Linked DNA regions of Homo sapiens. The protein of the gene in region 1 purifies or fractionates together with the protein of each later gene. This does not show direct contact. Each region holds a gene or a part of one and is shown in the gene's direction. Other genes may lie near its edges.

What was found.
Region 2: the proteins of SLC51B (region 1) and ODR4 purify together in Homo sapiens (affinity purification with mass spectrometry; one large-scale study listed by BioGRID and IntAct). This does not show direct contact.
Region 3: the proteins of SLC51B (region 1) and SLX9 purify together in Homo sapiens (affinity purification with mass spectrometry; one large-scale study listed by BioGRID and IntAct). This does not show direct contact.

What each region holds. Positions count from the first base shown.
Region 1 is NC_000015.10:65,048,387-65,051,141, forward strand, and holds part of SLC51B (organic solute transporter subunit beta), read left to right. Parts: intron 1-801; exon of another isoform or gene 802-1,510; 5' UTR 1,511-1,618; coding exon 1,619-1,715; exon of another isoform or gene 1,716-2,755.
Region 2 is NC_000001.11:186,385,740-186,389,471, forward strand, and holds part of ODR4 (protein odr-4 homolog), read left to right. Parts: intron 1-248; coding exon 249-344; intron 345-2,702; coding exon 2,703-2,809; intron 2,810-3,732. UniProt on the Homo sapiens protein: May play a role in the trafficking of a subset of G-protein coupled receptors.
Region 3 is NC_000021.9:44,970,929-44,974,382, forward strand, and holds part of SLX9 (ribosome biogenesis protein SLX9 homolog), read left to right. Parts: intron 1-2,268; coding exon 2,269-2,337; intron 2,338-3,454. UniProt on the Homo sapiens protein: May be involved in ribosome biogenesis.

The sequences.
Region 1 (2,755 bases):
TAAAGCTAGTCCTTTTGTTGATACTCCAATTTTCTGTCTGGCTGTTTGCCATCTAGCTGTTTTTGAATGCCCCTGGCTAAGTGTCCAAAGGCTATTTGGGGCTGAGATTGTTGAGCACCTAAGGCAGTGACAGAGTGTGAGGGGACCTGAGAATGCTTCGATCCTCCCTGTACACTTTTTTTCTTGGTGCCCTATGGCATGTTTTATAATTGATCTGTTCAAAACACTTCTCTTGTTTTATTTTAGTTACGTTTATCTCCATTCCTACTCCCTTCCTCCTCCTCCCCAAGACACAGCTTAATGTGTTTAATGCGTGTCCTTTTAAAAAAATGTGTTATTGGGTCAGGCGCGGTGGCTCACTCCTGTAATCCCAGTACTTTGGGAGGCCAAGGCGGGTGGATCACCTGAGGTCAAGAGTTCGAGACCAGCCTGGCCAACATGGTGAAACCCCATCTCTACTAAAAATACAAAAATTAGTGGGGCGGTAGTGACATGCGCCTGTAATTCCAGCTACTTAGGAGGCTGAGACAGGAGAATCGCTTGAACCTGGGAGGCGGAGGTTGCAGTGAGCAGAGATCGTGCCACTGCACTCCAGCCTGGGCGACAGAGTGAGACTCCGTCTCAAAAAAAAAAAAAAAAAAGCGAAATAACTTAACAATTTTAATATTGGCCTGAATAATATATGTTGTCAAAATTAATTTTACCTATTTCTTTTTGTTTTGTAAAGTATGGATGCTAGAAAATTTTATATTAAGTAGTAATAATGCAGTTAGTACAAGAAGACGTCAAAATGTCTGACTGTTTTGAGATTGACTGAGGTTCAGTTTATTATTAATAGTTGGGATGGAAATAGGCCTACACGAAGTAAGGGATTTATCCAGAGAGCATGGATTCAAGTTCTTCCCTTGCAAATAACAGAAACCAATTCTGCTAACTTGTCCAAAAAAAAAAGAAAAAGAAAAAAAAAGCTCTCGGGGTCGGGGCAGGGGGTGCCCTCTCAGCATCAGGAGCCGGCAGCTGCCTTTCCCTCCGGCACTTTTCCCTTTTCTCCTCTCTGTGTCGTAGGCGTGCCAATCCCCAGGAGAGAGGCGTGATAGGCCCAGCCTTTGACATGTGGGGAAACACAGGCCTGTGATTGGCTACCGCATGACACCCAAGGGACAAGTTGCTATGGCAACGCGTGGGCGCGCTGTGGGCTCGTAGAAGCCAGGTGCGGACGCTGAACAGGCAGGCGAAGACCCGAGATGTCCTTTGCAAGGGTCCCAGAACTCGCCAGTGGCTCAGTCCTCCTCACTCCCAGAACAGTGCTCCTCCACACATGCGATGGCTTTTAATAAATATTTGAGTCACTCCCACTTCCAGTCTCTGCCCCTCCAGGCTCCACGTGCTCCTGGGTTCGTTCGGGTCGTTTTTGTCCCATAACTTTGGGCCAGAGGAGATCTGGATTTGGGCACAGAGGGAGATCAAACTCGGGTGGGATATCCAGTCATGCTGTCTGCTTTGTTTCCAGGGGTCTTCACGGCTTCTCTGCCCAGGGGCCAGAACCGAGGAGGCCAGGAGGGCTGCTGGGGCTAAGGGGTCTAAGGACCTCGTTGCACACGCTACCAGGAGCAGGGGCATGGAGCACAGTGAGGGGGCTCCCGGAGACCCAGCCGGTACTGTGGTACCCCAGGAGCTGCTGGAAGAGATGCTTTGGTTTTTTCGTGTGGAAGATGGTAAGTGGTGAGAGATTGACGGCAGGGGTGGGGGTGTGCCCCTCAACACAGAGCAGAGTTTGGCTGAAGGTCCTGACACTGTCGTCCCCTCCAGGTCAGGCGGTACATTTCCTCCAAGACAGGGAATCAGTCGGGGTGTCTCAGTACCCAGAGGGGTCTGGCTGGACCGCCCCTTCCTTTTCTCAGGGTGTGGTCGCTTATTTATGCAGCCCTCCAATCATCACATTTATTAAGCTCCTACTCTGTACCAGACACTGTTCTCAGCACTGGGGCGACAATAGTGAATAAAACACAAAAATCTCTGCCTTCATGGAATGTACATTCTAGTGGGGATTAAAAATAAACAACTAAAACGCATAGTGCGTTGGTGATGAGTAATAAAAAGAAAAATTAAACAGAGAAAGAGAATAGGAAGTATGCAGCAAGGGCAGTAATGTGGTCAAGGAAGGCCTCACTAAAAAGGTGACATTTTTATCATCAGGAAGGTGACTTGCAGGAAACTAAGGAAATAATTAGGTATGCAAATTATTTGGGGGAGGAACATTCCTGGAGGGAGGACAGCAAATGCAAGAGCTCTGAGGCTGGACCCTGCTTCATTTGGGTACAGCATGGACAAATCTTGAGTAGCCACATTCAGTTTAGTCACTTCATGTATTATCTGTGGGCAGTTGCCATTCCTTCCACCCTTCTCCCTGCCTTCTTTCTTTCCTTTTTTTTTCTTTCTTCTTCTTCTTCTTTTTTTTTTTTTTTTTGCCTTTTTTTTGAGGCAGGGTCACTCTGTTGCCCAGGCTGGAGTGCAGTGGTGCAATCTTGGCTCACTGCAAGCTCTGCCTCCTGGATTCAAGTGATTCTCATGCCTCAGTCTCCTGAGTAGCTGGGATTACAGTGTATGCCACCACACCCAGCTAATTTTTGTATTTTTAGTAGAGACAGCATTTCACCATGTTGGCCAGGCTGGTCTTGAACTCCCGACCTCAGGTGATCCACCTGACTCGGCTTCCCAAAGTGCTGGGATTATAGGCGTGAGCCACTGAGCCCAG
Region 2 (3,732 bases), on another chromosome or scaffold:
AATCTAAAATAAAACTTCATTTTATTTAGCTGATGGTGGGACGCCATTGAAAAAATATTTCAGTCTTTGATCTCCTGAGAAAAGGATTTATTTATTGATGTAGCTAAAGGATGTTGTTATCAGATAGTTTTATTTATAAAGTAGTTTTAAGGTGAAAAGCTAAGGACATGCTAAGCAGACAGTTTCTCAAACAGAAAGGATTGCATATAATGCCAATTTGTTAGCTAATAATATATTTCTATTTTTAGGTATCCAGAATGCTACCAGGGGGACTTTTAGTTCTTGGAGTATTTATTATTACTACTTTAGAACTGGCAAATGATTTTCAAAATGCCCTGCGTAGAGTAAGTTTGATATATCGAAAATTCTTAATGAAATCAGTTATATGTTATTTTTACTGATTATGAGTATGTGTAATGATTCTAGGCATATTTACATTTGTTTTCCATAATTCTTTTTGTTGGGGTTACATTGAAAAAGCTTTTGTCACTCAATTGCTTGGATATCTTGAGTGTAAAAAATGTTTATATTTTTAAAAACTACACATTTTATTTATTATTTTTTCCATGGGTAATTTTATTCTTTATTTAGTACACTACCCAAAACAGGGCTATCATCAGCCCATATGGCATTTCATACAAATTTGAAAAAGCTATTCTTTCCTCAAGTTAAAAAGTTAAATTATTTACTTCTCAATAATAACCATGACTAATGACAGTAATTCCATGTAAATTATGCAAACAAATAATTCATTGTAAAATATTGAAAAATTCAAATGATTAATTATAATATTAAGAACTCAAAGTCACTTGGATCTAATAATTTGTTGTAAAAAAGGCATCTTTGTGGAAGTAATTCTTTTTGACAGAAAAACTACATATTTTAAAATAATCTTTATTTTAGAGGTAATTTCTGACTATTAGGAAACAAATTATAATGCTTTAAACAGTTTTTCTTATGCAATAGCAGTATTCTGTCACACCTTCCATTTAGTACCTAGTGATTACTGTAACATGAAATTAATAGGTGCTGAAATTCTTTACCTTCTTCTCAATTCTCCGGAGATCCTGAGAGTAAAACATAAACAATCAGATTATTCCTGGACACAGTATCTATCAGAAATCTCCTGTGTTTTTTGCTTAATTGCTGCACCAGAGAATTGGGTAACATAGTGTAAAAGTAAATATGAAGGTCCACATGCTGTTTTCCCTTAAACCCAAACCTAAGGTAGATTCTGTGTAGCCAGCTCTTTTAGCATTCAGGATCCACATGAACTTTTTGAAGGGTATTTCATACCCCAAAAGAGGGGGAACCTTAAAATCTTGAGACATATAAAACCCAACCCCAACAGTATCCCAGAAAAACATTTTTTAGGTAAAAAATATACAGCTGAGAACTTCAGATGTTACAGATTTTTTCAGTCTTGTAACCTGTCCTGTCAGATGTCCCAGCCTCAAGCCTTTGATATTTGCACCTAAGGGAGTAAGGGAAGAAAATGGAGATATTCTCCTCCCTGCTAAATTGTTTAACCCTCTGCCAACTTTTCCATCTTAAATAAATTTACCTTGTTTACAATTGTTCATTCTCTTTGGCATTTTGAAATTTAACCGAAATCTATGCGTATTTAATATTAATAGCATTCATTGTGCAACCTTTTTTGGCTGGTGCTGAATTGAGGGGGTTGAATGTGGGCCCAGTGCTAGAGAGATACAGCCAGGCCCACTTTCCTTGCTTTTGTATCTTTTGTTCCTAAAAAGTATATAAAACTTTAGAAATGCTTTATCTCTGACATTACTGAGTTTCAATTATCTAATTGTTTCCACTGGCTACACTGACAAACACTACAAGAAACAGCCTTATAAAACTTGTCAGTGTCACCCATTATTGTTAAGGACTTTATTCATCATATTACATTAATATTGTGTTTCCGGAAGAATTTCTTTTTATATTATGAAGAAGGTTGTGCCTCCTCTGATGATTGTTTTTAGCTTACAGACCATGTGAATTAGGTTACAGATTAGATTTCTCTCTGCACATTATTGTTAGAAAGCTTAGACCGAAATGTATTACCACCCCTTACATCAAGTATGCATTTTTATAATTCTTATTTCTGACACAAATTTATCTCACTATTCTACTTTAACTTTCAATTTGTTATTACTATATTTTATATGTTGTTATATATTGCCTTAAGTCTTGTGTGACGTTTAAATAAGAAATGCTAAATGGGTGACATGCTTGATTTCTTTAGTTAAAATCACTTATCATTTCTCATTCTAATTAAAGTCTCTGTTCTATAGTTTATATAAATTCTAGTTGCCCCAAATTAATTTTTTGTGTCCAGTTAATCTCTAATGATAGTGAATTAAATTTTTTTATTTAAACCCAATTTTTCTGTAATTTCCTAAAAGGAATTCAAAAATGTTAGTAATTAGCTCCAGTCTTTAATTTGAAGAAAAGAAAAATTAATGGTGGCACACACCTGTAGTCCCAGTTACTTGGGAAGCTGAGGTGAGAGAATCACTTGAGCCCAGGTGTTCAAGGCCAGCTTGAGCAACATAGTGAGACCCCTTCTCCAATAAATAAAGAATCATGGAATTTTAAAGCTAAATGAGAGTTGGGGACATTATAATTGCCTATTTCAACACTCATCTTTTTTTTTCATTTTACATTCAATTAGTGTGTATTTTTCTCTCTTTCAGCTAATGTTTGCTGTGGAAAAGTCTATAAATAGAAAGAGATTGTGGAATTTCACAGAGGAGGAAGTCTCAGAACGAGTGACACTTCACATTTGTGCTTCTACAAAAAAGTATCTTTTGTTCAGTTTATGGTTTAAAAGTACAAAGTACCAAAATAATATTCTTGCAAGGTTTTTTTGCTATTTATTTAAATCATCATTTAAAAAATAGGCATAGTTTTGTAAGATTTTTCTGTAAATAACATGGAATTAGAGCCACCAATAATAATAATAGCAATAATGGTTGTTAATCATGTCCCAAGGTGATAAAAAGCTTGAGATCTGTAATATGAAAGACTCAGGATTCTGAATTTTTTACCAGCTATCTGCCCTGTACATCCAAGCACAGCAGATTCCCTACAGAGATAAATGCCTAACTGATGGCTTAGGCAAAGTAATGTTTTTATTATGTTAAAGTTTTCACCTCCAGTTTCTATAGATAAGGATGTACAATTCAAAGCACAGGTGCACAGAGCTGGATGGTATAGGACATCGGAGAAATTCTTATGTCTTTGGCTAAGATGAAATGACACTAAAAGCCAGTTACACGGCCTCTTACCAGGGCAAGAGTACCTCCCAAGCAAGGGTCATCCTCACCAAAGGAGTGACACGATCCATGGACTTCCAAAGACAGAATTTTAAAAGTGACCATTCCTGCAGAAGCAGGGCTTTTTTTTTTTTTAACAACAACAAAAAAAATCTTTAGTATTTAACTGCAAAGTTTCATATACAAGCCCTTTAATCCAATAAATAGTCTCAGGTTTGACCTCATATAAAACAGTGGTACTTTTTCTTATGGAGAGTGTATATTTGAGAAGAATCTCACGAGTGCTTTGATTCTATTTATTGCAATTAGCGGGATTCATAAAAGGTAGGAAATGATTTTCAAGCACCGCAAGTACTATAGTGATAGCAGTTTGTATGTATGATTATATATACACATATGTATATATATGCACACATGTACATATATGTACGCATATCTTTAAAGTGTT
Region 3 (3,454 bases), on another chromosome or scaffold:
CCTGAGGGCCTCATGCCCCTGGGGTGCAGGATGCAGAGCTGGAATCTCAGAGGCCAGGGCAGGGCCCGTGTTTGGGGTCCACGTCACTCCTGGCTGGGAAGCAGGCATCGAGCGACACTTGACTCCGGTGACCCCCATGCTCTGGACCTCCACCTCCTGTGTGCGCTTTGTGGGCAGTTGTCGGGAGGGGACCCCCCATGCTGTGGACCTCCGCCTCCTGTGTGCGCTTTGTGGGTGATTGTCGGGAGGGGAGTGGTGGTGACGCCGCTGCTCCTGCCTGGAGGGAGTGCCGTGGGGGCTGGTGAGGGTCCACACTGGGCGGAGTTAGGCTCCAATTCCTCCTCGGCTTCCTGCTGTTAGGCCTCGTGGAGTCGCGTCCCTGCCGGTGCTTGCCCTTGGCCCATGACGGTAACCGCCCAGCACTCTGTCCCCGGGGCCCTGAACTCCGGAAACCCCACTGGGTAGGCTGTGCGTCCCGCCTGGGAGGATGGGGTGTGGGACGCGTGGGTGGGGGACGGTCCCCGCAGTGGGGAGGGGAGGTGCCGCGCCTGGCCTCATGGGCACTGCAGCCACCCTGGGTGCAGCTCCTCTGCTTTGGGACCTTGGGAGGCATTGGTCCCACCCCCACTGCTAGTTCATCTCTTAAAGTGAGGGTGCAGCTCCAGGGCCCGAGGTTTCCCCAACCAGGAAGGATGTCCTGGACCCGGGCTCAGGTCTCCTGACCCAGCACGTGGCTGCCCAGAGCCCTGGCACCAGGGTGCACCTAGAGGAGGGGCCCCACGCTGATGGCTTCTGCAAGGATGGGGACCGGGGACAGCTCTGGGCAGTCAGTGAGGGAGCTGCTGCTCAGGGGTGGACACAGGGAGGGGGTCGGCTGGCCAGGGGGGCAGAGCTTCTGCATCGGGGCAAGGCTGGCCCAGGAGAGGCCGTGGGGAGATGTCGTCAGCCCCGGCAGAGCCCCTGCAATGAATGGAGCTGTGGCTTTGAGCGGGCAGAGGGGACGGGAGATGCGAGGGGCTGTCATCTGCCAGTGTGAGCAGGAAGGGATGGGGACTGATTCCTTCCCCAGATCAGCGCAGAGCTAGGGTTAAAAGAAAGCGGGTGCTGAGGGCTATTTTGGGCAGACACAAAATGTCTGTCATTCATATTTTAAGAGATCCATGAATAAAAGATGAAGTCTCCTGGCCCGAGGCTAAGTGTAGGGCTGGTCTGAGGACTCTGCGTCTCTGCCTTCCCGCCGTCGTCTGGGTCCCATCTCACTGTGTGGACGGCAGATCTGAGAAGGCGCCTGGTGTGGCCTTGCGGGTTCTCTGTTCCTTTTAAGGCCCAGGTCGCTGTCCCATGTGAACATTCGGCCAGGTGGGCGGCTGCCTTGGCCGGCTGACCACAAGGAGTGCAGGCGAGCTCCCGAAGATTCCCACGGTTAACTGAGGGTGAGAAGCTCCGCGGGCAGCCGGAGCCTGCCTGGGGTGGACGTCAGAGATGAGAGTGTCCTGGCCCGCCCGTGCCCTTAGTCAAGGCCCAGCTTGGTGGTTTGGAGATCCCAGGACTAAAGGAAATAGCCAGCAGCACTCAGGAAACCTCCTCAGTTCCTCCACCTGTCCATGGGGGACTGCAGTGCTCGTTGGCACCCCCCGCAGGTGCAGGCAGGGCAGGATCTACGGTGGGTCCACGCCCCTGTCCCCAAGTTCAGTCATCAGGAGGGCAGGTGCAGCTTCCCACTGTAGCACAGCGTGCGCCTTCTTCTAAAGAGAGGACCTGGGGACATGTAGGCTTGGGTGGGTGACTCAGCCTTCCTGGGAAGTGGTGTGTACTGCGGGAGTGGGACTGGCTGTGCCTGCCAGGGTCCTTTGGCCCGAAGTGTGAGGTGTCTGCGCAGCCTGCCCTGGCCAGGCAGGTGGGGTGGAGACGCTGTATATCGTGAGACGTGTTCCTGGCTGACCACTCCCTCCATGTCCCATGGAGCCAGGAGGAGCTGCAGGAGTCACCAGATTCCACACGGAGCAGCTTGGGGCCCGCGGTCACAGGACGGTCAGGCAGTTGCACTGCTTGTCCGGGGCGGTCACAGGACGGTCAGGCAGTTGCACTGCTTGTCCAGGTCTCGCCTCCATGGCCACAGTGCAGCTTGGAACTTGTGGTTCTGCAGTGGTTTGGTCACCTCTGGCCACCACGACGTCTGCTCTAAGAAGGGAGGAGCCAGCCTCTGCCCACGGGAAGGTGTTTAGGGGATGCTGGATGCTGACTCACGTGGCTTCTCTGTGTCCACAGCAGGGAGAGCAACAAGCCCCGGCCCTCAGAGCTCAGCCGGATGAGCGCAGCCCAGAGACAGCAGCTTCTGTGAGTGCACCTGCCCACCTCCTCAGGGGTTCAGCTCCTGAGTGCCCTCACCCTGCCCACCCTCTCCAGGGGTTCAGCTCCTATGTGCCCTCACCCCGCCCACCCTCTCCAGGGGTTCAGCTCCTGAGTGCCCTCACCCCGCCCACCCTCTCCAGGGGTTCAGCTCCTATGTGCCCTCACCCCGCCCACCCTCTCCAGGGGTTCAGCTCCTGAGTGCCCTCACCCCGCCCACCCTCTCCAGGGATTCAGCTCCTGAGTGCCCTCACCCCGCCCACCCTCTCCAGGGGTTCAGCTCCTATGTGCCCTCGCCCCGCCCACCCTCTCCAGGGATTCAGCTCCTGAGTGCCCTCACCCCGCCCACCCTCTCCAGGGGTTCAGCTCCTATGTGCCCTCGCCCCGCCCACCCTCTCCAGGGGTTCAGCTCCTGTGTGCCCCCACCCCGCCCTCTCCAGGGGTCCTGAGTGCCTCCAGCCTGCCCTCCCAGGGGTTCAGCGGCTGAGAGCCCCGCCCGTGCCTCTAGTCCCCTCCACGCTGCTCCGCTGGCTCCTGCCTGTCTGCTCCAGGGGGGCTTTTCAGTGCAGTCAGGTCCTGTGGCCCTGGGTCAAGTCCCGCCTCCCAGGAAGGCTTCCAAGGGGAGTCATGGATCTAAAATGATGGGTGGACGCAGCCCCATCTCCGCCCCTCCCCTCCGCTGGCTGGTTGAAATCTGGATGATACGTTTGGTTCTGTGACTGGGCACTGCGGCCCCCAGTTAGCAGGGCTAGGACACTGATTTGCAGAAATTTGTACTCAGTTGTCCTCTTGGGTACAAAAATCTCCAGACCACGCACGCTCTCTTGCCTCTTTGCAGACTCAGCTCCAGTTTCCACTGAGAGAGCCACATTTTACGCCCTTGTAAGATGGTTTTAGTTAGCTGCTGGGATGATTTTTCCTGTGGTTTGAAATGGCTTTACTCAGGTGTTTATCAGTGGGAGCGTTTTGTGTCAGTTCTACCGAGGCCCATTGTGCCTTTCCAGTTGAGAGTCTGAAGTCTGTTTTGTGAGTTCGATTATGCTTAGAAGCTGCTGTCTGTTTTGTGAGTACAGTTATGTTGGGAAGCTGGTGTCGAATGGTAGCT